Homo sapiens: one gene and its partners. The protein of the gene in region 1 purifies or fractionates together with the protein of each later gene. This does not show direct contact. Each region holds a gene or a part of one and is shown on either strand. Other genes may lie near its edges. The genes, in order: DDI2, PARP12, TOM1, ZNF578, TTC4, ZNF222 and ZNF549.

Region 1 (3,500 bases):
GACTCAAACAATCCTCTCACCTCAGCCTCCTGAGTAGTGGGGACCACAGGTGCATGCCACCACGCCCAGCTTTTTCATTTTTAGTAGAGATGGGAGTTTCGCCGTGGTGGCCAGGCTGGTCTTGAAGTAATCCGCCCATCTCGGCCTCCCAAAGTGCTGGGAATACAGGTGTGAGCCATCGTGCCTGGCCCAAAATGCGCATCTTTTACATCAGCAGGGAGCTGTCCTCCCGCAGTACTAATCTGGAAGTTAATGGCTTTGAGAGGCCCACTTCTTCTGGGGTTCAGGTACACGCCATAAATTACAATGTCTGGGTATAAGCTATTTAAAGGAGTAGGGAGATAGAGACAAGGACACCACCTTGTCTAACTGAAGTAACCACCTCAATTTAAAAGAAATTGATCAAACAGAAGTCTTATGATAAAAACTTTATTGTCTTAAATATCAAATGTTTTACACACCACTTTTTCTTCAGAAAGTTCCTATTTAAAAAAAGAAAAATAAAATAAAGTGTTTTGATTATTTAGGGCTGACTTACATTTCAGTATGTGACAAAAATTCAAACCCAAATGCATCTAGCTCACTCAGTTTCAGACAGGTCCTATGTTCAGCCCCTAAACGAATGGCACAATGCCACCAATTTTGGGATTCCTGAGTTTGGTTCCCTTAAGTTCTCAGAGTTTTCCCAACTCTCAAAACCAAAGCATCATGGGAGTGACAGGGCCACTGGCAAGACTTTTTGCCAGTCAGCCTAGTTCTTCTTTTAAGATGCAGTAGTCTCAAAGCTTAAAGTCAGAAAATCTTGCAATACAAGAGTAACTGCAAGAACATATAAAGAAGGAAAAGAAAGGACGGGGTTTCTAGTTGCTAAGATTTGCCAAACATGGCTACAAAACTGGTAAACAAACCTTTCTTGAGTGCAAAGTCCATTAGCCCAACTTGCCATGAAGAGATTTGAAATAAAAATGAACAAATCAATTTCTGTTGTAGATACAAAGCGAAAAAATAAAATTCAATCAATATATTGAATTTCTCTGAGTTTATCACTAGAACTATTTCAAAAGGATGATCGGGGATAGAATAGAAATCTAGTCATTCAAATGGGAAGGTCTTGGATGGGTGCCATAAACTCAGCTGTGAAGATTCAGGAAAGGAAAAATAAGTCTGGTCAGCATCAGGTAATCTCAGACAGAAGGAATCAGGAAACGAATCAGCCTGCCTCGGGAAGGAAATACAGGTCTACCATTTTTAGGCCATAGACACATTCATTCAGGGTTGTGTGTAAAACCAACTCTTGTAAACAAAATAACTTCCCATCAGAAATGCATGTTCCCAGGAAAAAAAATACTGCAGCATGCCCCCCTCCCCAAATTAGCTAATAAAAACCTTCTTGCAGAACATAAAGAAACCTAGTTCTGTATAAATTATCATAATTTTGTATTTCATGCCCCCACGACCCCAATCTTCCATAGTTGGCTTAACATTTTTAGGTAAAAGAAACATTCTCTAACCCCCATGCCCTTGAACCATTTTCTTGGCCGATTTCATTCCAGAAGATAGTGCCCTAAAACTTGTCAGCTCAGCTGTATCTTTTCACATTCTACAGCCTCCAGAGGGTCTAGATTACCAATCATCAATACATAACTGATAAACCTTTGAGAACATTTTCTAACTGTAAACCTCAGAAGTCACTAGTAGTTACGATCCAGAAATTCTACCTGTATGCTTCAGCATTACAACATATATGTGGCATTTAAAATAACAGGTTAAAAAATGTCCCTTTGATGAAGCTGTCCTGTAGACAGGCCTGGTAGAGCCTCAAATACTCCTGTCAATCCTGTCCACCAATCCCAGCCATCGCTGATTACATGTTCTGCTCTAGATTCCCGTTTTCACAAGTTGCACCCAGCTGCTTTAAAATAGCACATCCTGCAGAACCCTCTGCTAAGTCGTGCTAGCCCAGATGGTCAGTATTCCGGAGCAGCCGTGCTCACAAAGGGATGTGAGGAGGATGCTGCCGCACACTCCATGTTTCTACCCTGCATGTGAGGTGGTCTGATGGATTGACTGACTGTCACTGGTGCATTTTTAGGGTCATCTTCCATTTATTTGTTGCACTTCTTTCCTGGCCATCCCCTCTCCTCCAGCATTGTAAATGGATTTCTCAATAACTGATCTCCTCAGGCATTTATACATGTTACATATTTTGTTGGTTTCTCTGATTCCATTTAAAAAAAAATTTTTTTTTTTTTTGAGACGGTGTCTCACTCTTGCCCAGGCTGGAGTACAGTGACGTGATCCCGGCTCACTGCAACCTCCGCCTCCCGGGTTCAAGCGATTCTTCTGCCTCAGTTTCCCGAGTAGCTGGGACTACAGGCATGTGCCACCATGCCCGGCTAATTTTTTATTTTTAGTAGAGGTAAGGTTTCATCATATTGGCCAGGCTGGTCTCGACCTCCTGACCTCATATCCACCCACCTTGGCCTCCCAAAGTGCTGGGATTACAGGTGTGAGCCAACGCACCTGGCCTAAAAAAATAGATTTTTAAAGAGCTGTTTTAGGCCCACAGCATCTGATTCCATTGTAAGCCTGATTTTCCCAGTCTGCTCTGAAGTGGAACCAGGTAACTCTAATATGACTTTTAAAATAAATGCATGCTAACAGGCAAAAATAGATGTTGCTTTTGAAGCTAAAATTTGTTTCACGTCTCCCTTCTAGACTGAAAGCTTCACAAGGGCAGGGTTCCAATCTGTTTTAGTTACCCCTGAATCCCCAGAGTTCACCTGTGCCTGGCACACAGGCACTCAGTATTTGATGAATGAATCAAAGTAGCAAGGAATTCTTGTTCAAAGACTCATGTTGCATAGCCTTCAAGAGTACCAATTTCCTTTCAAATATGTAAGATCTTCTTGAACTTTTCTCTCCCTTAACCAGCACAACATTGATAGTAAAACAAAGAACATAAACATCTAAAAACTGTTTTTGGTGATTCAAAAATCCCTATTATAATCATAGCACTAAAGAAATCTAATGGTCTGATGCAGGATAACTGTGAATCAACTCAGTCAAGGTGAGCCTGAGGACCACTCTGTGTGCCCTCCATCTCCAGGAGAGCTATTTTCAAACTTTCCCCTAATACTCCTCTCATTCCCCACCAAAATTTGATGCCTCTGCTATTCAGAGAAACTAAGGCACAAAAGAAAATCAAGCACATCGAAGGTTCACTCCTAAGTTCATTCAGTGAACTCCTAGTAACACCTACTGAGGAATCACTAAGGTATAAAACTTGAACCATGATTTTACATTTCCAGTTCTCAAGGACAGGCTTTGAATTTAATTTGTTGTTAAGAGTAATTAGCAATTCTAGGGAAAAAAAAGCTATTTTTATTTTCTCTACCTCCTAACACAAAAGGTAACATTCATCTTCTAGGAAGGGAAACTCTTGATAACTCTGTGTCTTTCTAGGTCAGCCACAGACTACACTAAGTCACCAACTCCAA
Region 2 (3,500 bases), on another chromosome or scaffold:
CTTTTGACTTTGCCTGTGAAGTATTTTACCATAAATATATATCTCTTATTATTTTAGTTAAATGTATCAGTGTCTTACTGATTCTGGATTTAGAGTTTTGGTTGATTATGACCCTCCTATTTCTGGAAGTCATTTTTTATTCTTTTCCTATACAAAGCCTACCCTAGACAAGGTTTGGAAAAGTCTCTCTGCTTTCTGAGAGTAGATCTCTCTTATTCTAATTTAGTTTTTAGGGGGCCACAAGAAGATGCCAAATGTCCAAACTAAAAGTGATTCAGACTAAGATATGGGTGATTTGGGGTCTCCTGTAAGCGGAGTGTCACACACTGTTCACACAGATGAAGTGTTCAGTTCTTCTCTCTGACCCATGTGCCAGCAGCTGGTTGTCATTAACTCCAGTAAGCAAGTCTGCCTGGGCCTGCATGGCCAATTGGGAATCTGAGGGTAGATCACTTTCAGAAACAACTTTTCTGTTTACACAATTAATGAGGTCATAAAATGTAATGTCCATATTCAGAAGTCATAATACAGGAGTGTCATGTAAAATTTATTTATGTATTTATTTATTTATTTATTTATGAGACAGGGTCTCACTCTGTCACCCAGGATGGAATGCAGTGACCTGATCACGGCTTATTGCACCTTCCACCTCCCGGGCTCAAGCAATCCTCCCACCTCAGCATCCCAAGTAGTTGGGACCACAGGCATGCGCCACCATGCCCAGCTAATTTTTTTATTTGTTGTGGAGACAGGGTCTCACCATGTTGCCCATCCTCTATGAAAATGTTTCATTCATGTGATTGGGTCTTATTTTTTCTTTTCTTACCTTCTTTTGTGTATATGTATATTTTAAAGGCTATGGTAGAAACTACATGTTCTTCACTTAAGTACAAGTAAATCAATATCTTTGCCCTCCTATCTTTTCTTCCATTTGCCTTCCTCTCAACTTTTTTTAAACCTCAAGAGGCACCATTATTTTATACTCTGAAAGTTTCATTAAATTTACTCACATTTTTACCACTTTGTCCTTTCAGATTACCTTAGATCAGGGGTGTCCAATCTTTTGGCTTTCCCAGGCCACATTAGAGGAAAAAGAATTGGTCCACACATAAAATACACTAACACTAACGATAGCTGAACTAAAAGAATAAAAACCACAAGAAAATCTCATAATGTTTTAAGAAAGTTTACAGATTTGTGTTGGGTCACATTCAAAGCTGTCCTGGGTTACATGCAGCCTGCGGGCTGCAGGTTGGACAAGGCTGCCTTCGATGAAGATTTGTTGGAAAACTGTTTTTGGTTTGTCTGAATATGTATGTACGTATGTATGTATGCATGTATGTATGTATGTATTTTGAGATGGAGTCGCACTGTCGCCCAGGCCAGAGTGCAGTGGCATGATCTTGGCTCACTGCAACCTCCGCCTCTTGAGTTCAAGCGATTCTCCTGTCTCAGCCTCCTGAGTAGCTTGGACTACTGGCGTGCGCCACCATGCCCGGCTAATTTTTGTATTTTTGGTGGAGATGGGGTTTCATTATGTTGGTCAGGCTGGTCTTGAACTCCTGATCTCAAGTGATCTGCCCACCTCGGCCTCCCAAAGTGCTGGGATTACAGGCGTGGGCCACTGCGCCTGGCCAACATGTATTTATTTTGCCATCAATCTTGAAGGAAATTTTCACTGGGTATAGAATTTTGGGTTGTAGGGATTTTCTCTTGGATCATTGTGATGATCACTCCACTGTATTCTGGCTTCCACTGTTGCTTTTGAGAAATTGCCTGTTGGTCTAACAGGTGCTTCTTTGACAGTAATCACTCTTTTTTCCTTTGGCTACTTTTAAGAGCTTCTGTTTGTCTTGGAGGTAGGCATCCTCACTAAAGTGTATCTAAGTATGTGCTTTTATTTATCATGGTTGAGATTCTTTGGGCTTCTTAAGCTGCGGATAGGTGCATCTCATCAGTTCTCTTTGAAAATCGCCTCCACTGTCTTGTCTCTCCTCTCCTAGAGCTTCACTTAGGTTCTGATCATATTCAAGTTCTCACTGTTCTCCATGTCTCAACTTCTTTCCTGCATTTTCCATTTCCTTGTTGCTGTGGGCCACATTCTGGACAATTTCATTTCACATATGTTTCAGCTCACTGATTCTTCCTCCAGCTGGTCTAATCTGCTATTAAGCCTGTCCACTACACTTTTATTATTAAAGATTGTACTTAATTCTGTAAGTTCTATTTGGTTCTTTTTTAGATCTTCCAGGTCTTTTTATAGTTTCCTGTTCCTTGCATATGTTTTTAAAGTTTGTCTTTTTTTTTCCTTTAAACATAGGAAGAATAATTGTTTTGTAATCTCTCTGATAATTTCAGCATCTTAAGTCTTTGTGGGTCTGTTTTTGGCTGATTCTTGCTGGTAGGACCTTGCTTAGTTATTTTTGAACTGTGCCATTTTCCCAGGAAAGTTATTTGTGGGAGTTCTTTGAGGCTTAGGATGAAGGTATATGTTTCATGCCAGCAGAAACAGAAGGTAGATCTATTTAGAAAGAACAGTGTATTCTGAAACTTAATAGGAATGATTTGTAATTATAGTTTCACAGTCCTTGTTCCTGAACCCTTGATCCATATGTCTTTTGAACTGCTTTTATTTAATTTTTAGAAAGATAATGTGATGCTTGTATCACGTGACACTCTGTATTTTAGCACATTAATATTTCTGCAGTAAACAATATGCATAGTCAGTTTAAGAAGGATAGATACAGATCACAGTGGCCTCTTACTAACTTCAGTCAAATTTCTACTGCCAAATGACTTTTGATGTCACTTTTATGTTTTTCAAAAAATGTTTTATTTCATATTTTCTCCTGCTTTTCCTGAGCTGTATAAAAAGTTTTAAAATGTCAATTATACCTCATCGAGGCCTTAAAAAAATGTCTTTAGAGCTCTTAGAATTTCAGAATTGTGGATAAAGGTTTATGGCTGTGTGTGTGCTCCTTTAACCATGTACTCCATCCCTTTTATCCCTTTTGTGTGGTAGTTGGGACACAGGCGAGAAATAGATCTCTCAGGACTGTTTGGAGTTTGGCTACATAGGCAAAGATAAAAGTGCTCTCATGTTGTGAATATCGTGCTAACATTCTTCCTTGCCTTCTACCTGCTCTTGAAATATGATGTGCTGAGACTCAAGACTGGTGATATTGGCTAGCAGAGACCACCTATGGTATATTTGCTTTGTGTAAGAATAAAATGTCTACGTGTTTTTGTTTACATTTTTGTAGCAATACCAAGTTTCCAGGCCCGAAGAGCATCCCAGACTATTGGGACTCCTCTGCCCTGCCAGACCCAGGCTTTCAGGTAGGGGACGCATGCGCCTGGGGCTGGACAGGAAGGTGTTCTGTAGAAGTGGGTGTGTGTGAACAGACTGTGCCATTCCTCAACACTGAAGAAGCTGTAAGGCTGGGGCTAATTGGGGCAGGAGGGCAGTGACAGATGTGGGCTTTATTTTTGTTTTTGTT
Region 3 (3,500 bases), on another chromosome or scaffold:
CTCCCTGGCTGTGATTACTGATGACACAGTATAGCTGCTTATAATTCTGTAAACCAGGCCCCTCCTTGCTGCAGGAGTACCATCTCTTCTCAAGCCTGCCGACTCCCATGCCCTTGTTGATAGTAGAGCTGTAGAGCCATATGGAATTGACATCCCTCAGATGGTGATTCTAATGATGCTAATCAGGAATGAGTGTCAGTCACTGGAATCACAAAGTTCTCATCCACCTCCCCTCCCAACACACACACACACACACCCCTTTGTGCTTGCTGGTCCCTCTGCCTGGGTTGCTTGCTCCTGTGCCCCCACTGAGGAGCTCCAGATCACCCTTCAAAGTACAGGGCATCATCACCTCCTCCCTGAGGCTTGCCCCAAGCCCGACGTTGCTCTTTTACTCTCCCTTTATCCTAGATCCTCAGGCCCCCTTGCCCTATGACTTTGGGCTCTGAATCTCCGCTTCCTCCTTGGTAGAATGTTACTAACAGCATCTGCCTCACAGGGTGGTTGCTGGAATGAAACAAGATAGTCCTCTGAGAGTGTCTCGCACAGTGTGAGTGTATGGAAACATTAGCTCTTCCTGTCATCATCACCATCATCATTTTTATTATTTCTTTTTTTTTTTTTTTTTTGAGACAGAGTCTCAAAAAAGGCTGGAATGCAGTGGCACAGCCTCAGCTCACTGCAACCTCTGCCCCCCAGGTTCAAGTGATTCTCCTGCCTCAGCCTCCCGAGTAGCTGGGATTAGAGGTGCACACCACCATGCCCGGCTAATTTTTGTATTTTTAGTAGAGATGGGGTTTCACCATGTTAGCCAAGCTGGTCTTGAACTCCTGACCTCAAGTGATCCAGCCACCTTAGCCTCCCAAAGTGCTGGGATTGCAGGTGTGAGCCACCACGCTTGGCTTATTTTTATTATTTCTACCCTCATTATACTAATATGCCACCGTCCCACTCTGTTAGTGGTTGTGCATGTCTGTCTCCACAGCTAGGCTGAACCTCTTGAGAGCAGGAACTGTGCCTTATTTCTCCAGACCCTCAGCACCTAGCACGGTGCCTGGCACATAGCAGGAAGGAGGAAGGGAGAAAAGGAAAGTAACATTTTGTGAGCAAACACCATAATAACTCTGCCAGGTATTCTGCTAGCGTCCTGGGTATTAATCTCATGGTGACCCTGTGCGGTTTTGCTATTTTTTTCCCATTTCACCAAAAGTCAGTCTAAGAGAAAGCATCGCTTTCCAGGGTTCCACAGCCACTCAAGGTCAGAATCCAGACCCAGGTCTTCTTTTGTACCCTCACCACACTGCCTCGAGCTGCCCAGTGCTTCTTTTGAATTGATGTCTGTCCCACCCTCCAAGAGCCACAACTCTTATTCTACCCTCAGATAAGGACATGTACATGGGTCTCACACTTGCAGGCCCCTCCCCTCATCGATGAGTAGGGGAGCTTCCCAAGGGCAGCACCCGTAGCTGAGAGGATTCCAGATCCTTTGTACCAGCTGGTGTTGTCACAGCCCTCTTCTTTCAAGGATTTCAAACCCTTTCCAGATATTCTCTGCAGACAAATCTTACTGGATCTGTTTTGTTTTTTGTTTTTTGTTTTTTATGAGACAGAGTCTCACTCTGTCGCCCAGGCGGGAGTGCAGTGGCGCGATCTCGGCTCACTGCAAGCTCCACCTCCCGGGTTCACGCCATTCTCCTGCCTCAGCCTCCCAAGTAGCTGGGACTACAGGCACCCGCCACCACACCTGGCTAATTTTTTGTATTTTTAGTAGAGACGGGGTTTCACCGTGTTAGCCAGGATGGTCTCGATCTCCTGACCTCATGAACCACCCACCTCGGCCTCCCAAAGTGCTGGGATTACAGGCGTGAGCCACTGCACCCGGCCTACTGGCTCTGTTTTATAGACAGATATCAAGAAACCCATTTTCCATTTCTGGCTGTCAGCTTACCCCTAAGCACTTGGAGTCCAAATCCTAGCTGATTGCCAACAGTAAGTTGCAAACAACAGAGATGGTAAATATGGGCAGTCCCTGGGGATGAGCCTCAGTGGTTGGGGTGGTGGGAGCTGGGTGTGAGGGGAGAAGAGCCCAGAGCCTGAAGACTGAGCCCTGGAGGGGAAAAGTGAAAAAGTCAGAGAGAGCTGTCTTTGAATCCACAAAAGCCAAGCCGGGGGAGCCACAGGAAGGAATCACAGAAGTGAGAGACCACTTCAGGCCCTTGGGGGCCAGTTGGGGAATGATGGGCTGGAAAGTGGACACTTAAGCGATGTTGAGGAGACACCAGGCTGGGAGGCGGGACACCTGGTTCCAGCTCTGGTTCTGCTCCTAACTATGTCACGGTCCCTCTCCATTGCCCATCTCCCCTATTGGCAACACAGAGGTGCTGTCATTCTCCCTCTGCTTCCCAGAGGATTGGTAAGGAACGACAGAGGTCATATATAGGGACAGGGAAGGGTTGATGCCAGAGGGAAGAAAGAAACTGATGGCGGGCCAGGCACGGTGGCTCACGCCTGTAATCCCAGCACGTTGGGAGGCCGAGGCGGGTGGATCACGAGGTCAAGAAATTGAGACCATCCTGGCCAACATGGTGAAACCCTGTCTCTACTAAAAATACAAAAATTAGCTGGACGTGGTGGCACACGCCTGTAGTCCCAGCAACTTGGGAGGCTGAGGCAGGAAAATTACTTGAACCTGGGAGGCGAAGGTTGCAGTGAGCCAAGATCACGCCGCTGCACTCTAGCCTGGTGACAGAGTGAGACTCAATCTCAAAAAAAAAAAAAAAACTGATGGGTGCTGGGGAGGACTGATAGAACTGAATGTGCAGGGCTCCAAGGGCATGGTGTGTGGTTACAGGAATAAGCAGTTCGGTTTCAGTATAAATAGCTATCCCCAGAGCCTTGCAAAGATGGAACTGGCTGCCTTGTTCAGTAGTGAGCTCCCCACCACTGGAGCTGTGAAGGCAGAAGCCGGGGTGGGGAGGGCGACTATAAAGAGGATTCCTGTGTTGGTTAGCAGACTAGACCAGGGTCAGTGAGCTTTTTCTATAAAGGGCCAGATAGTAAATACTTGTGGCTTCGTGAACCAGATGGTCTCTGCTGCAACTACCCAGTTCTGCCATTATAGCACAAAAGCAGCTACATAGGCCATAGGTAAATGAATGAGAATGACTGTGCATAAATAAAAATATTTATGGGCAATGAAATTTGAATTTCACGTAATTTTCACATATCATGAAATATTATTCTTCTTCAGCTTTTTTTTTTCCCAACTATTTAAAAATATAAAGACCATCTGTAGCTCGAGTACCATACAAAACAGACTGAATTTGGCATATGGGTTCATAGTTTGCTGACTTCTGAATCGGAGCAGCTGGCCAGAGGCAGAATGATGGAGCACACTGTTCCTCAAAGTGGGGTACCAGAGCACCCACACTGGGGATGCTTGAGGGTGCTTATCCCCACAGTGTGCCCATGTGAGCCCTAATATCTTGAAGCTTCTGTTT
Region 4 (3,500 bases), on another chromosome or scaffold:
GTGAGTGCAAGCAAACGTGTCAGGCAAAATGCTTCAGACTCAGAAAAGACTGGCTGTTACAATACATTACTACAATACAATATAATACTACTACACTTCAGAAAGGAAAGAGACAGATTAATCCACAGAGGAATATCACTTCACCTGAGGAAGAGCCATGCCTGGCTCCTTTCCTTTCCTCTTCTGAGCTGCTTCCTCATGTAACATGAGTCTTTAGAAATCAATCCTGTATGTGGAAGAAAAATAAGACTTCAGGTTAGATATGACTCACTCCCTTCCTGTGATAAAAACACAGGAACGGGGAGACATCACCCTGTACAAAGAAGCCCCCCCCACTGCCCACTGCACCAGAGATCATGCAGACATAAGAAAGTCCCACAGGAAGACCTATAAGTGTATGTTTGACCCTGGTCTTCAGATCTCGCCCCCCTCCTGGAGCAGCCACCACACACGAGGCAGCAGTGGGGAGCTGGGCTGGACTGATCTCTCCTTCAGGGCACAGACCCATCCCTGATCAAACCGCATCCAGAGGACAGCCCCTCACCTCTCTGTGGATCACAGGCTGAGCTCAGCCCTCAGAAATGCAGGACTCAGAGCTTCCATGCTCAATGCTGCACACAGATGACAAGCACCTGCGCCACTGCAGGTATTACTGAGGGTGGGTTCCATCCCGTCAGAATAAGAATCCCTGCTAAAGCGGCACAAAAGCTCTATTTGCAAAATGCTCCGCACTCTAATGTGAAGCCAGGGTTGAGCTCCACTCAGAGGGGGCGAGCCCAGCACAGCCCCACGTTCTGGCTCTGCCCTCCGCTTGGGGCCAAGTTCTCACCAGGATCCAGACAGTGGATGACAAAGGCACAAAAATAATCACAAAGAGGCCAGACGCAGGGGCTCTCGCCTATAATCCCAGCACTTTGGGAGGCCGAGGCGGCTGGATCACAGGGTCAGGACTTCAAGACCAGACTGGCCAACATGGCGAAATGCTTTCTCTACTAAAAGTACAAAAATTAGCTGGGCATGGTAGCGGGTGCCCATAATCCCAGCTATTCAGGAGGCTGAGGCAGGAGAATTGCTTGAAGCCAGGAGACAGAGGTTGCAGTGAGCCGAGATCCCACCACTGCACTCCAGCCTGGGTGACAGAGCAAGACTCTATCTCAAAAAAAAAAAAAAAAAAAGTCACACAAAACAGTCAATGTGGACCAGAGGAAAATAAATCTTGGGGCCCAAAATCACTAAGCAAAAGGGAAAAGTCAAGCTGGGAACTGCTTAGGGAACCAGACTCCCCTTCTATTCAAAGTCACCCCTCTGCTCCCTGACATACATGCCTATCTGAGTACCTCCTTTGAAAGGCTAATCAAACTCAAAAGAAAGACCCAGCATAGTGGCTCAGGACTGTAATCCCAGCACTGTGGGAGGCCGAGGAAGGCAGATCACTTGGGGTCAAGAGGTCGACACCGTCCCAGCCAACATGGTGAAAAGACATCTCTACTAAAAATACAAAAATGATCTGGGCATCTACTTGGGAAGCTGAGGGAGGAGAATCACTTGAACCCAGGAGGGAGAGGTTGCAGTGAGCCAAGATCGTGCCACTGCACTCCAGCCTGGGTGACAAAATGGGACTTCATCTCAAAAAAAAAAAAAAAAGGAAACTCAAAAGATTGCAACCATTTGTGCCTCAGTTCTCTGTGACCTAAAAGCCCCTTCCCTGCTTCAAGTCTTCCTGCCTTTGTTTAAAGTTCTCCCACCTTCCCAGACCAAACCAACGTACTTCTTACATATATTGATTGATGTCTCATGTCTCCATAAAATGTATAAAATTAAGCTCTGCGCCGACCACCTTGGGCAAAATAAACTTTCTAAATTAACTGAGATCTCTGTAAGATTTTCTGATTTCACAGCCGCAGTGTCGAATGAGGGCTGTGGGAGATCACAAAGGAGACCCGGAGAAGATGATATCAGAACAAGGACCTAGGAAAGAAAGGCTGCTTGTCACTTGCAGCTGAGGGGAAGAGCATCCTAGAGAGAGGGACAGCTCAAGTGAAGGCCCTGAGACAGGAGCAACCTCAGCCCCAGGAAAAGGAAAGCGGCCCGTGGGGCTGGAACAGTGGAAGAGAGGAGGGCACAGGTAGGAGATGAGGTCAGAGAGGTCCTGGGGGCACAGACCCATAGGGACATGGTCTTCAAACATTTTTCTCCCACAACCCAAAAGCATTTTGAAAGTCGATTGTGATCCCAGCTACTCGGGAGTCTGAGGCAGGAGAATCCCTTGATCCCAGGAGACAGAGGTTGCAGTGAGCTGATATCATGGCATTGCACTCCAGCCTCAGCCATAAGAGTGAAAATTCATCTCAAAAAAAAAAAAACGATTTGGAAGTGATGTATCTTCTCACTCTTTTCACATATACATGTACGTTTCTCTATGTATTATAAATTACAACACTTACAAATAATGTAATGTATTTCCCATATTTAAAATATGTGCTGTCAAGTTCAGCTAAGTTTTCGGAAGTACACATTCACTCTCATCTGAGATGTGCAGACTGCAAGGGAATGTGTTTGGGGATTTAGGAAGTCACTTATGGACAGCTGAAGGTGGGGATGCCTGTTTGATGTCCCAGGAGAGAGCTGAGGAGACTACTGGACACAGGATTGTAGAGCTCAGGGTTGAGGCCTGCAGGGGACATGGAGTCGTGTAGGTGGGTGAAAGCTGTGAGATGATAACCTTCAAGGTGATTTGAGTCTAATCCCCTGTTTTTGCTCATCTTGGAGAACTGGAATTCATTTGAAATTTGAGTTAAAAATGACCATTATCCTCTCCCAGAAGAAAAGTCACACACTGTATTTTGTCAGTCGTTTCAGGGGTCAGTGTCACTGACTGAGCTTTTCTGATCTTATTCCTCACCTCTATGTTACAGGTGGGCTCACTAAGGCTCACAGCGGGAGACATTTCACCAAGTTATCCTGAGAAGCTCTGAGGTGAGGAGGAAGGAGGTGTGGCTGATTCCAATGTGATGGCCTGAAAGGGCCAATAGGCTGCCTTGGTCTTCCTCCTCTAGAAAATTCCAAGACCAGCCAGGAATGGTGACCCACCCTTGAAATCCCAACACTTTGGGTAGTTGAGGCAGGCCAATCACTTGAGCCAAGAAGTCTGAGACCAACACGGGCAACATAGTAAACCCCATCTCTAACAAAAATACAAAAAATTAGCCAGGCATCGTGGCGTGCATCTGTGGTTCCAGCTACTTGGGAGGCTGACGCAAGATCACTTGAGCCCGGGAGGCAGAGGTTGCAGTGATCCAAGATTGTTCCACTGCATTCCAGCCTGGGTGATAGGGTGACACTCTGTCTTACAAAAAAAAAAAAAAAAAGCGGCCAGGCGAGGTGGCTCATTCCTGTAATCCCATCATTTTGGCAGGCCAAAGTGGGCAAATCACAAGGTCAGGAGTTCAAGACCATCCTGGCCAATATGGTGACATCACGTCTCTACTAAAAATACACAA
Region 5 (3,500 bases), about 39 Mb from region 1:
GAAGAAAGTCATTGTTACAAATATAGAAAGGGAGAAAAAATCCTGTGGATGTTGAATTAAGAGTTGGAGATACCAATGAGACTTCATGGTCTCTCTCTCTCTCTCTCCTCTCTCCTCTCTTCTCTCTCCTCTCCTCTTCTCTCTCTCTCTCTCTCTCTCTCTCTCTCTCTCTCTCTCTCTCTCTCCTTTCTTTCTTTCTCTCTCTTTCTCCCCCAAGCTGTGGCACTGAGAAGGCATTGAGGCAGTAAGCTTGCCTCTCTACCCCCATTGTATTAATCGATACACTTATACACTTATTGCACAGAGATCTCGGCTTCTAAATACCATTCTTCACTAGAAAGAACCAGGGCTTCTTGGGAAAAAATAGCTAATTCCAGAGCTGGGGCAAGGAAAGCGCAATCTGAACCTAGAACATCCTATGTAAGAAAGCAACCACTTAAAAAATAGACACAAGTCAAAAGGACACAGAAACAAATTTGAAGAGATTCCCACTGGCCAAATCTGGGATATTCTGAGCATAAAAGAAACAATCATAGTAACAGATTAAAACTCATTAAATGAAACAGGAAACTATAAATCCACCAATATAAATAAATATGTTGAATATCTGACGAGCAATGGGATATTTACACCATTTCAAAGCATCTCCCTATAAAACACTTATTAATCATAAAGAAAAAGTAACTGTACAGTGGAGAAGGCTGGCAGACCCCACCTCAATCAGGTGATCAGAGTGAACATCATGAGTAATGGGACAAATGGAGATTATGTACCATCTGATAGGTGCAATGAGAATACAGCATCACTTCTGTAATATTCCAGCCAAATATGCATAATCCAGGCCGGGCATGGTGGCTCACACCTGTAATCCTAGCACTCTGGGAGGCCAAATCGGGCAGATCATTTGAGGTCAGGAGTTTGAGACCAGCCTGGCCAACACGGCAAAACCCCATCTCTATTAAAAATACAAAAAATTAGCTGGGCGTGGTATCTGAGTAGCTGTAATCCCAGCTACTCAGGAGGCTGAGGCAGGAGAATCGCTTGGACCTTGGAGGCAGAGGCTGCAGTGAGCCGAGATCACACCATTGCACTTCAGCCTGGGCAACAAGAGCAAAACTCCATCTCAAAACAAACAAACAAGTATGTATAATCCAAATCTAGTCAGAAGGAAACATGAGACAAACCCATACTGACAGACATTCTACAAAATAAGTGGTCTGTAATCTTCAAAGTGTCCTGCAGTTGAGTCACAGGATCACAAAAATATGAATAAAAATTTTTTAAGTAAAAAAAAAAAGTGGAGGAAAGACTGAGGAGCTCTTCCATACTGAAGGAGACTAAGGGGACATGATCACTAAATACAGTATGTGATTCTGAACAAAACCCTTTTGCTATAAAGAATTTGTGAAACCTGAATGGAGTCTGAGGGTTAGATGGTAACAGTGAATTAATGTAAATTTCCTGCTTTGATAGCTATATGGGTATTATAAAGAAAAATGTCCTTTTGTGTAGGAAATACACAGTAAAGTATTCAGGGGTAATGGGACATCAGCTGGCATCCTACTCTCAAATGTTAGAAAAAGGTAATTCTTTATACTGGATATTGTGATTTTTTATTTAAAAAATCCCAACAATGGAATGTTATTCAGCCTTAAAAAGGAAAGAAATTCTGGCTGGGCACGGTAGCTCACACCTGTAATCCCAGCACTTCTGGAGGCCAAGGAGGGCGGATCACTTGAGGCCAGGAGTTCAAGACCAGCCTGGCCAACATAGCAAAACCCCATCTCTACTAAAAATACAAACAAAATTAGCCAGGCTTGGTGGCACATGCCTGTAATCCCAGCTACCTGGGAACCGGAGGCATGAAAATCACTTGAACCAAGAGGCAAGGTTGCAACGATCTGAGATTGCACCACAGCACTCCAGCCTAGGTGACAGAGCGAGATTCTGTCTCAAAAAATAAAAATAAATAAAAAGGAAAACAATTCTGGTTGGGCATGGTGGCTCACACCTATAATCCCAGCACTTTGAAAGGCGGAGGTGAGTGGATCACTTGAGGTCAGGAGTTCGAGACCAGCCTGGCCAACATGGTGAAACCCCATCTCTACTAAAAATACAAAACTTAGCTGGGTGTGGTGGCACGCGTCTATAATCCCAGCTACTCAGGAGGCTGAGGCAGGAGAATCGCTTGAACCTGGGAGGCAGAGGTTGCAGTGAGCCAAGATCGCACCACTGCACTCCAGCCTGGGTGAAACAGCGAGACTCCGTCTCAAAAATTTAAAAAAAAAAGGAAATTCTGACACATGATACAATATGTAATGAACCTTGAAGACATTATGCTAAGTGAAATAAGCCAGACATAAAAGGACAAATACTGTATGATTCCACTTATATGAAGTACTTAGAGTTTCAATTTGGGAAGATGAAAAAGTTTTGGAGATGGCTGGTGGTGATAGTTGCACAACAATGTGAATGTACTTAATGCCACTGACCTATATACCTAAAAATGGTTAAAATGGTAAATATTATGTCATGTATATTTTACTATAATTTTCAAAAAAATAAAGCAGACTGCTTCCCCCGCCGCAAAAAAAAAAAAAAAAAAAAAAAAAATTAATTCCATAGAGGAACGAAATAAAACTTCTCTTACCTCCAAATTATCAGGGCAATATTTTTGCTCTAGGTCCCAAGAGGGTGTTTCACCAAACATCACCATTAGATGATCAATAAACCTAAGGATAAAACATGTACTTTCTGGGTATCAATAACTCATGATCTATTTTCCCACATCGGTCCCCAGACACTAATTCAAAGTTATCTAGAATGTATAAAACATGAAATGCAGGCTTAACCCATTTGACAGCAGTACCCCAAATGTGTATATGTATCACTTGTCCTATTATGACATAATTTTATTTTATTTTATTTTATTTTTTTTTTTTGAGACAGGGTCTCGCTCTGTCACCCTGGCTAGAGTACAGTGGCATGATAACAGCTCACTGTAGCCTCGACTTCCGGGCTTAAGCAATTCCTCTACCTTAGCCTCCTGCATAGCTGAGACTACAGGCACATGCCACCATGCCTGGCTAATTTTTTTCTTTTTTTTGTAGAGATGGGGGTCTCCCTATATTGCCCAGGCTGGTCTCAAACTCCTGGGCTCAAATTATCCTCCTGCCTCAGCCTCCCAAAGTTATTGGGATTACAGGTGTGAGCCCTGCACCTGACTGACAGGATTTTCTTTTTTTCTTTTCTTTTCTTTTTTTTTTTGAGACAAAGTCTTGCTCTGTCACCAAGGCTGGAGTGTGGAGTACAGTGGAACAATCTCTGCTCACTGCAACCTTCACCTTCTGGGTTCAAGTGATTCTCGTGCCCCAGGCTCCCAGACAGCTGGGACTACAGGCATGCACCACCATGCCCGGCTAATTTTTTATATTTTTATTAGGCACGGGATTTTGCCATGTTTGCCAGGCTGGTCTTGAACTCCTGGCCTCTAGTGATCC
Region 6 (4,037 bases), on another chromosome or scaffold:
AGAGTGGCAGAGGAAGCATGACTATGGAAGAATGGTCAGGGATGCAATGTAGCTGCTTTTGAAGATGGAGGAAGGGAAACAAGAGCCACGGAGTGTGGACAGTGACTAGAGACTGGTAAACCAAAATGAAGTCTTCTCCCCATGAACATCCAGAAAGGAACAAAGCCCTAAGACCACTTGATTTTTGCCCAGTGAGATGTGTCAGACTTCAGGCCTACAGAAGAGAAAGATAAGTGTTTCTTGTTCAGTCTGCTGAGTTTTATGTCACCGGCCACAATAGGCAATACAATGTCCTTGGCAGGATAGAGAAACAGCAGGGAGGACAAGGTGCCTGGAAAAGATGGAGCAAGGGGGAGAGGACAGGAGATGCAGTCAGACAGTGTGGGATGAAGGGCAGATCACAGGGTCTACAAAAGCCACTTAAAGAGGTTGTAACACTAATAAAAACAAGAAGCCAGAAAGGCTTTGAGCTGAGGAATGGCAATGTGACTTCCGTTTCCTACGGATCACTTTGGCTACCGTAAGAACAGATGGCAGGGTGGGAAGGGTGGGAGCAGGGGCATCAGCAGGGAGAAGGCTGTAATAATCCAGGAAACAGGTTTGGCCATTTACCCCAAAATGCTGGAAATGGGCATGGACAGAAGTAACAGGAATCACATGCAGGGACACACAATTGCTTGGTTCTTACCCAAATTCCCTTCTCTTTGGCTTGTTGTCCCCATCACCCAAAACTTTTCTTCCCTTAGGAAGTGGAAAGTATCTCCATGGAATGGTTGATGCCCTGTGAACAGGCAAAGTCACATGCTTAATCCCAACATGTTCAAGGTAATATCATGTTGGTGCAAACGTAATTGCAGTGTACCATTACTTCCAATGACAAAAACCACAATTACTTTTGCACCAACCTAATAGCCAGGCAAAATTTACTGGAAATGTAGGTTCTCACTGCACACTCAAACTTGAAAACCCTAGGATTAAAAAACCACTCCTGGGGCCTGACATTCCATTACAGGGGGTGCCCGTCCTCACCCACTGAGAGCAGGTTCCTGAAGTTCTCAAGCATCACATCTCGGTACAGCTTCCTCTGGGCAGGGTCCAGCAGCCCCAGCTCCTCCTCAGTGAAGATCACAGCCACATCCTTGAAGGTCACTGCCTCCTACAACATCAAGCAGATGTCACCTCAATCTTACGGCCAAAGACTATTGGGAGACAGCAGCATTGCACTGGCACAAGGGACAAGTGTAAAGTTGTTTTGGATCTTGAGAGACATAGGTCAGCTTATAGATTTCCTACTTATTCTGTTTGTGTCCTGACAATGACTGATTAGGCAATAGGGGTTTGGAATGGAGACTGCACACACCAGTCAACAGGGTGTGTCCTGAATAAATAGTGGGTAAAGGACATTTACTGAGATGCTATCTCTAACTCCACTTCAGGAAAGCTTGCTGCAGAGTTAGAGTGATATAGTCCAAATGCTCTGTTTGAGTCGCGGGCCCTTTGACGAAAATGAGACTGAGGCAGGAGAATCACTTGAACCCGAGAGGCGGAGGTTACAGTGAGCCAAGATTGCACCACTGCACTCCAGCCTAAGCAACAAGAGCGAAACTCTGTAAAAAAAAAAATATATATATATATAGAGAGAGAGAGAGAAAGAAAATAGTAGATAAGGTTAAAAAAATTAAAAAGCAAAAAGCAAACAAACAAAAACTCCTATAGAAGTCCAAGCCCCTGAGCCTTGCCTCAAGGTGCCTTCAATCAAGTCCTAACTTACGTTCTCCACCTGTTCCCAGCTAGTACCTCTGCCTCAATGAGAATTGCATTCAAGAGATGATCAACTCAGGCTCTAACCTGGACTGCCTAGGTTTCAACTCCTGCTCCACCTGTGTCTCACGCCCATCTTTAAAATGAAAAAAGCAGCACCTCTCCACAGTGCCACTGTGAAGATCATGTATTTTGGGGTATAAAGTACTTGGAATAAAGTTACCAATTAAGGCTTAATCATTATCGACACCCATGCCCGAGGGACAAATCCTACACACTCTCGGTTGAGGTAAGCATCTCTGTCAAAGAAAAAAAGCCAAGGATCACTCACGTAGAGCTTTGCCATCAGTAGCCAAGAAGTCCCTTCCTGCAGCTCTTTTAGAAAGGTCGGGCTGGGGAAAAAGAAAGCTGTGAAACACCCTGACCGTTTTGCCGTCCCCCATAAAAGTTAAATGCTCCCCTCACTTTCCTAAAAAGAGGTCAGAAGGCGTCAGGGATCATCCAGCGTCCTGCAGGGATCAGGCAGAAGGGCCGGCGCCCCTGCAGCTGGAGCTCTGACCCCACCAGAGGACCTGACAGGCTTCGTGGGAAATTAACAAGAGACCACCAGACACCGAGTGACAGGGACTGCTTTTAAGGCTCTCATTTGTGTTACCTCTTTCAGGTCCCAAAATGAATCCATTAGGATGGTCCGAAAAGTCCCGTTACAAAACAAACAAACAAACGAACCAGCAATGGAAGATAAACGGACATTAAGTGACACTCCACACCACACTGAAAGGGGCTGCACACGTAGGGAGGAGGGAGGCGGACTAAGCGAGGTCAAAGTAGGGCACACCGGGCCGCGCCAATCCCACTCCCTGAGACCCTAGCAGAGCCCCCCGACGCCAGAAGGCTCAGCTGACTGGAACGGCAATCCCCGCCCGCGCCCCTCCAAACCTCTGCTCTCCGCCCAGGCTTCTTTTCTCCTGAATCGATCATTGGGTGGTTGCGAGCCCCAAGGAAAGGAGACTCGTTCGGAAGGACTCGCAAGATGTGGAAATGACTCAAACTACTGTGGTAAATGAAATAGCAACGTCACAGTTGGGGACCGGAAGTGCTCGAGCCTCCACAGAGCGTGTGGACTCCACTTCCCAGAATTCCCCGGACTCGCCCGTGTGAGACAAAGGGCCCGCGACTCAAACAGAGCATTTGGACTATATCACTCTAACTCTGCAGCAAGCTTTCCTGAAGTGGAGTTGGAGATAGCATTTCAGTAAATGTCCTTTACCCACTGCTTATTCGGGACACACCCTGTTGACTGGTGCGTGCAGTCTCCATTCCAAACCACTATTGCCATTCCTATCGCTTCCATAAAGCCTAAGAAATCAAATATTTTCTTTCTCTGCCTTCATCTAGCTAGAAATTTTCATGGGACACAATTTTGGGAAGTGAGACATTAGGAGAAGTGAGCTGTCCTCTCCTGACAAGAAATGTGCTTGGCAGGCTGTGAGTACACGAGGAGTTGAAAGAGTAAAAAGGTGATCGTCTCAGTGGACTGTAGGTATTGGCGAGGTTCTAATATTACTGATGCTAGCATGCTGGTGGGACCAAGGTGGAAATACAAGTCAAAGTTGTTGGAGAGTAGTGCTGCAAATTATTATGGAGGAATATTTGCTAGAAAATGACGAGGTCTAAAATATGACCATGGGAGAGAGTGTCCCTTGATATTTCACATGAATCTCAGGTGGATTTTTTCATTTCTGAGAAAAATGTTACTGTGATTAAGGATTGCATTGAATCTATAGATATAGGTATTGACAGCCTTGCAATATCAAGTCGCCCAATCCATTAATAATGGATATATCTCCATTTATTTGCGCCTTCTTTAATTTTTTTTTTTTTTTTTTTGAGACAGAGTCTCACTCTGTCGCCCAAGCTGGAGTGCAGTGGCACAATCTTGGCTCACTGCAACCTCCGCCTCCTGAGTTCAAGCGATTCTCCTGCCTCAGCCTCCCAAGTAGCTGGGATTACAGGCACGTACCACCATACCTGGCCAATTTTTGTATTTTTAGTGAAGACAGGGGTTTCACCAGGTTGGCCAGGCTGATCTCGAACTCCTGGCCTCAAGTTATTCGCCTGCCTGGGCCTCACAAAGTGCTGGGATTACAGGCATAAGCCACCATGCCTGGGGTGCCTTCTTTAATTTTCTTTAGTAAGATGTTGCAAAATTCAGTGTCCAAGTGTTTCTTGTCATTGGTTAAGACAGTTCCTAAGTAATTTATTTATTTAATGCT
Region 7 (4,234 bases), on another chromosome or scaffold:
CTCTGAGGCTATCTAGAGACTCCACCTTGTCTGCTCACCCTAAGCCATCTCATAAAACTCAAGTATAGAAGTCTTCCCTTATCAGCTGTTTTGCTATTTGCAGTTTCAGTTACCCACACTCAACTTCAGTGTGAAAATTATAAGTATTAAATTTCAACTTCAGTCTGAAAATAGTAATATTAAAATTCCAGAAATAAACAATTCATGTTTTAAATAGTGCACCATCCTTTATTTATTTATTTATTTATTTATTTTATTTATTTATTTTTGGAGACGGAGCCTCGCTCTGTCGCCCAGGCTGGAGTGTAGTGGTGCAATCTCGGCTCACTGCAAGCTCTGCCTCCCAGCTTCACACCATTCTCCTGCCTCAGCCTCCGGAGTAGCTGGGACTACGGGCGCCCACTACCACACCTGGCTAATTTTTTGTATTTTTAGTAGAGACGGGGTTTCACCATGTTAGCCAGGATGGTCTCGATCTCCTGACCTTGTGATCTGCCTGCCTCAGCCTCCCAAAGTGCTGGGATTACAGGTGTGAGCCACTGCGCTGGCCAACAGTGCACCATTGTAAGTAGTGTGAGGAAATCTCACTCTATCGAGTTTAGTCCCTTCTTCATCACAAGGGTGAATAGTACAGTAAGATATTTAGAGAGATACCACATTCACATGTTTTTTATAATTTAACTTTTGCTTTTTTATTGTCTCAACTGCAGTTACTTAACTTTTATTAACTTATAAAGTATAACTGTTCTATATTATTTCCAGTTATTATTGTTCATCTCCTATACTGCCTCATTTATAAACTGGATTTTATTACAGGTATGTAGTCTAGGAAGAAACATAGTATATATAGGTTGGGTACTATCTGCAGTTTCAAGCCTCCGCTGGGGTTCTTGAAAGGTATCCTCTGAGGATAAGGGGGAACTACTGTTCAGACATTCATTGTTCAACTACTAAATGGTATAGCCTATTGCTCCTAGGCTACAAACCTGTACAGCAAGTTACTATACTAAATACTGTCAGCAACTGTAACACAGTGATAATTATTTGTGCATTTAAACATTTATAAACTTAGAAAATGCAGTTTGCCTCCTGATCAGAAAGAAAGAAAATGAAAAGGTACAGTAAAAATATGGTATCATAATCTTATGGGACCACCGTCACTGATGTGGTCAACACTGTTGTTATGCGGTCCATGACTTATCACAAGACACTTTTCACTGAGGAAATTACAACGATTTTAGGAATTCTGTGCCAGGAAAGCATGACAAAAAACAAACATTTATTTTTTATTAGAGCACAGAGTTATAGTGACATTTTATTCGGTTAACTAATTGCTTGCATAAATTTAATTTGTTAAATCTATACAGTCTAAACTTGTATTTTCCTGGGAGAGCTGCTCTTGCTGGGCTTGGGCTTCTCTGCTAGTCTGGCTGACCTTTCTCTGGCTCCACATAGAGTGAACAGTTCGCCAAGTCTTCTGAATGGTGACTCTACACAGTGTCCCACCCTCAAATCCATCCTATGCAGTGTGTATTCCTTACACATTCCCTTTGGAAGTACCCCCGGAACCCCATGGCCCTCCTATCTGCAGGCAGCTTCGCCAAGGCCGACCCACACTTTCCCAGCCTCCAGCCTCAGCCCTCCCTCTCTTCATCTCAAAGTAAAACCTTAAGATTTCCCGTCTAAATTTAAGGCTTGGCTTGAGTCTACGCCCCAGCCTGTCTCCATTTACACATCACTGAGTCAGTCCCCTCCCATGAATTTTCTACTTATGATTCCAACTGCCCATGTAACAACTTCACTCTGTGGCAATTTAGAAACACCACGTCCAAAATTCAACTCCTACTATTTCCCTGAAACCTGCTCCCTCACCAGATTTCTTTGTCAACTCTTCCAGATGTTCAGGTAAAAGAAAAACTTGGGATCATACTTCACTCCCACTTTTGCTCATAGGCACAAATGATGGAGCAGAAAATCCTGCTGGCTTTACCTTTAAGATCTACCAAGATTCTTATTACTTAGGTCCCTTCAGCAACCCGTCTGGTCCAGAATCCACCATAATCCTCCTGGAGCCTACTACAGCAGTCTCCTCACCAGTATCCCTGCGTCCACCCCCATCACTCCGTAACAGTCTGTTTTCTCCACTCATTGCCTTTGAAATATTTTTTCAGACCCTCACTCAGATCGTGTTCTCCTTTAGTTCACAACCCTCCATGGCTCCCAAAGACTCAGAATTAAAAACCCCGGTTGCTCAGGCTGCCATGGCAGCCGTGCCTTCTTCTCCTCATTCTCTCTGCTCCCTGCAGACACAGGTCCGCCCCCAAGTTTCCGAATGCTCGCGACCCCGGCGCACCTCCCAGGCTCTGCGCGTGCAGCCCCCACGGTACGCAACGCTCTCCCTTCTTCACCTCACCGCCCGTCAGCTCTGAGGACCCCACCCAGAACTCCTCGCTGTCCTGGAGAAGAGGCCTGAACTGCAGAGACCCACGCAGGTGACCCCAGTCCGGGGCCTCAGGACCCAGGTGAGGATCCGAGGACTCCGCTCTCACCTGCGGCGTAATCACTAGCGCTGCCTCGGCCATGGGACTTTAGGCGGGGCGGGGCCTGGAAAGGCGGGCGGTAAAGCCCGGGATCCGGCGTGCGTGCGGTGGCAAATCGCTGGGCGACGCTCAGACCGAGACCAGGCAAGCTCCTCTGCGGGCGGACACCACCTCCACCGGTTTCCGGCTCCAGTTACCTGGCCCGGACCCAGCGAGCCGGAAACGCCCAGCCCGCGGACGCGCTCGCAGGCAGCAAAAACGACCACCACCGGAAAGACGCCGGAAGATTCTGGCGTATTGCGCACTTACGGAGGTGCCCCTTTCCTGGGCAATGATTGGTCTAAGGCCCCGGCACGCTCGGCGCACAGTATTCTGGGTGGTGTAGTTCCTACCACGCCGCAGTCCGCCGCGCTGTGAGGACTCAATCCAAGAAAGAGAGGACAAAGGAAAAAACCCATCAAACTAGGGTCAGCAAAGCCTATTACATACACAGGATAAAAGAATACGATTTGATCTTCATTTCTCAACACAAAAGTTGACATATATTGCATACAATACATTAAAAATGTTGACAATTGAGAATTGACGCGACCCTTAATTTTTTTCTTTTTTTTAATGTAGAAACTATAACCAAAAATAAAATTCAAAGGCCTCCCAACTATCTGAATGGACCCCCTCCTCTCAGCATTATAGAGTTAACCTGAAAATCTAGTTCAGGCCATTATGGAAGAAGGGGTTGGACATGCCTCATTCTACCCCTACAGCAATAACATCAGCATAGACCTTAAGTCTGATAAGAAACATTTACAATCTATTTCTCTGAAACTTGCTACCTGCAGGCTTCATCTGTATGATAAAACCTGGGTCTCCAACCAAGGTGATCACTAACAGTGGGGTCAGCATCCCCTTATCCCACACGTTTGTGTTTATTCTGTTTTTTTGCCCTCAAGTGTTAGTGACTTAAATTACATAATGTATCTATTATCATAAGTGGAACTGAAATGAGATTGCAGAAACATTATATCTTCTTTTTCTTTTCTTTTTTTCCTTTTTTTTTTTTGACAGAGTCTCACTCTGTCGCCCAGACTGGAGTACAGTGGTGCAATCTCTGCTCACTGTAACCTCCACCTCCCAGGTTCAAGCGATTCTCCTGCCTCAGCCTCCCGAGTAGCCGGGACTACAGGCATGCGCCACCACCCCCGGATAATTTTTGTATTTTTAGTAGAGACAGGGTTTCACCATGTTGGCCAGGCTGGTCTAGAACCGGCCTCAAGTGATTCGCCTGCCTTAAAGTGCTGGGATTACAAGCATGAGCCACCATGCCTGGCTTTTTTCCCCCATATTTAGCAATTAGCTTTTGTTGCTATCCATTGTCTTCATTTCTCTTTAGTTTTTAATTGTTTATAATTTTGACATTTTATAATTACTTAAGAAAGGTTAGAAAAATTACCATTTAGATTGGAGTCATATTAAATAAGACACCTATATTGTAAAAATATCTTTATGAATGTAATCTTTGGCTATAGTGTTGTAACCGAGCGAGTTATAGAGAAATGCCACACTCTGAGACTAATTCTGGAGTCCTTTTATTGCCAGCGACCGAGAGACAGCTAGAGCTCAAAATTCTTGGCCCCGAAGAAGGGGCTAGATTTCTTTTTATACCTTGATCTAAATAGGGGAGGGGGAGTTTAGCT

What was found.
Region 2: the proteins of DDI2 (region 1) and PARP12 purify together in Homo sapiens (co-immunoprecipitation; one large-scale study listed by IntAct). This does not show direct contact.
Region 3: the proteins of DDI2 (region 1) and TOM1 fractionate together in Homo sapiens (co-fractionation; one large-scale study listed by BioGRID). This does not show direct contact.
Region 4: the proteins of DDI2 (region 1) and ZNF578 purify together in Homo sapiens (co-immunoprecipitation; one large-scale study listed by IntAct). This does not show direct contact.
Region 5: the proteins of DDI2 (region 1) and TTC4 fractionate together in Homo sapiens (co-fractionation; one large-scale study listed by BioGRID). This does not show direct contact.
Region 6: the proteins of DDI2 (region 1) and ZNF222 purify together in Homo sapiens (co-immunoprecipitation; one large-scale study listed by IntAct). This does not show direct contact.
Region 7: the proteins of DDI2 (region 1) and ZNF549 purify together in Homo sapiens (co-immunoprecipitation; one large-scale study listed by IntAct). This does not show direct contact.

The regions. Positions count from the first base shown.
Region 1 is NC_000001.11:15,665,958-15,669,457, reverse strand, and holds the end of DDI2 (protein DDI1 homolog 2), read right to left. Parts: 3' UTR 414-3,500; downstream 1-413. UniProt on the Homo sapiens protein: Aspartic protease that mediates the cleavage of NFE2L1/NRF1 at 'Leu-104', thereby promoting release of NFE2L1/NRF1 from the endoplasmic reticulum membrane.
Region 2 is NC_000007.14:140,028,452-140,031,951, reverse strand, and holds part of PARP12 (protein mono-ADP-ribosyltransferase PARP12), read left to right. Parts: intron 1-3,263; coding exon 3,264-3,339; exon of another isoform or gene 3,340-3,340; intron 3,341-3,500.
Region 3 is NC_000022.11:35,302,894-35,306,393, forward strand, and holds part of TOM1 (target of Myb1 membrane trafficking protein), read left to right. Parts: intron 1-3,500.
Region 4 is NC_000019.10:52,498,553-52,502,052, reverse strand, and holds part of ZNF578 (zinc finger protein 578), read right to left. Parts: intron 227-3,500; 5' UTR 208-226; coding exon 145-207; intron 1-144. UniProt on the Homo sapiens protein: May be involved in transcriptional regulation.
Region 5 is NC_000001.11:54,732,861-54,736,360, reverse strand, and holds part of TTC4 (tetratricopeptide repeat protein 4), read right to left. Parts: intron 2,733-3,500; coding exon 2,651-2,732; intron 1-2,650.
Region 6 is NC_000019.10:44,024,142-44,028,178, reverse strand, and holds the start of ZNF222 (zinc finger protein 222), read right to left. Parts: upstream 2,801-4,037; 5' UTR 2,743-2,800; coding exon 2,701-2,742; intron 2,154-2,700; exon of another isoform or gene 2,108-2,153; coding exon of another isoform or gene 2,093-2,107; intron 1,157-2,092; coding exon 1,030-1,156; intron 782-1,029; coding exon 689-781; intron 1-688. UniProt on the Homo sapiens protein: May be involved in transcriptional regulation.
Region 7 is NC_000019.10:57,525,922-57,530,155, reverse strand, and holds the start of ZNF549 (zinc finger protein 549), read right to left. Parts: upstream 2,801-4,234; 5' UTR 2,583-2,800; coding exon 2,550-2,582; intron 2,547-2,549; exon of another isoform or gene 1-2,546. UniProt on the Homo sapiens protein: May be involved in transcriptional regulation.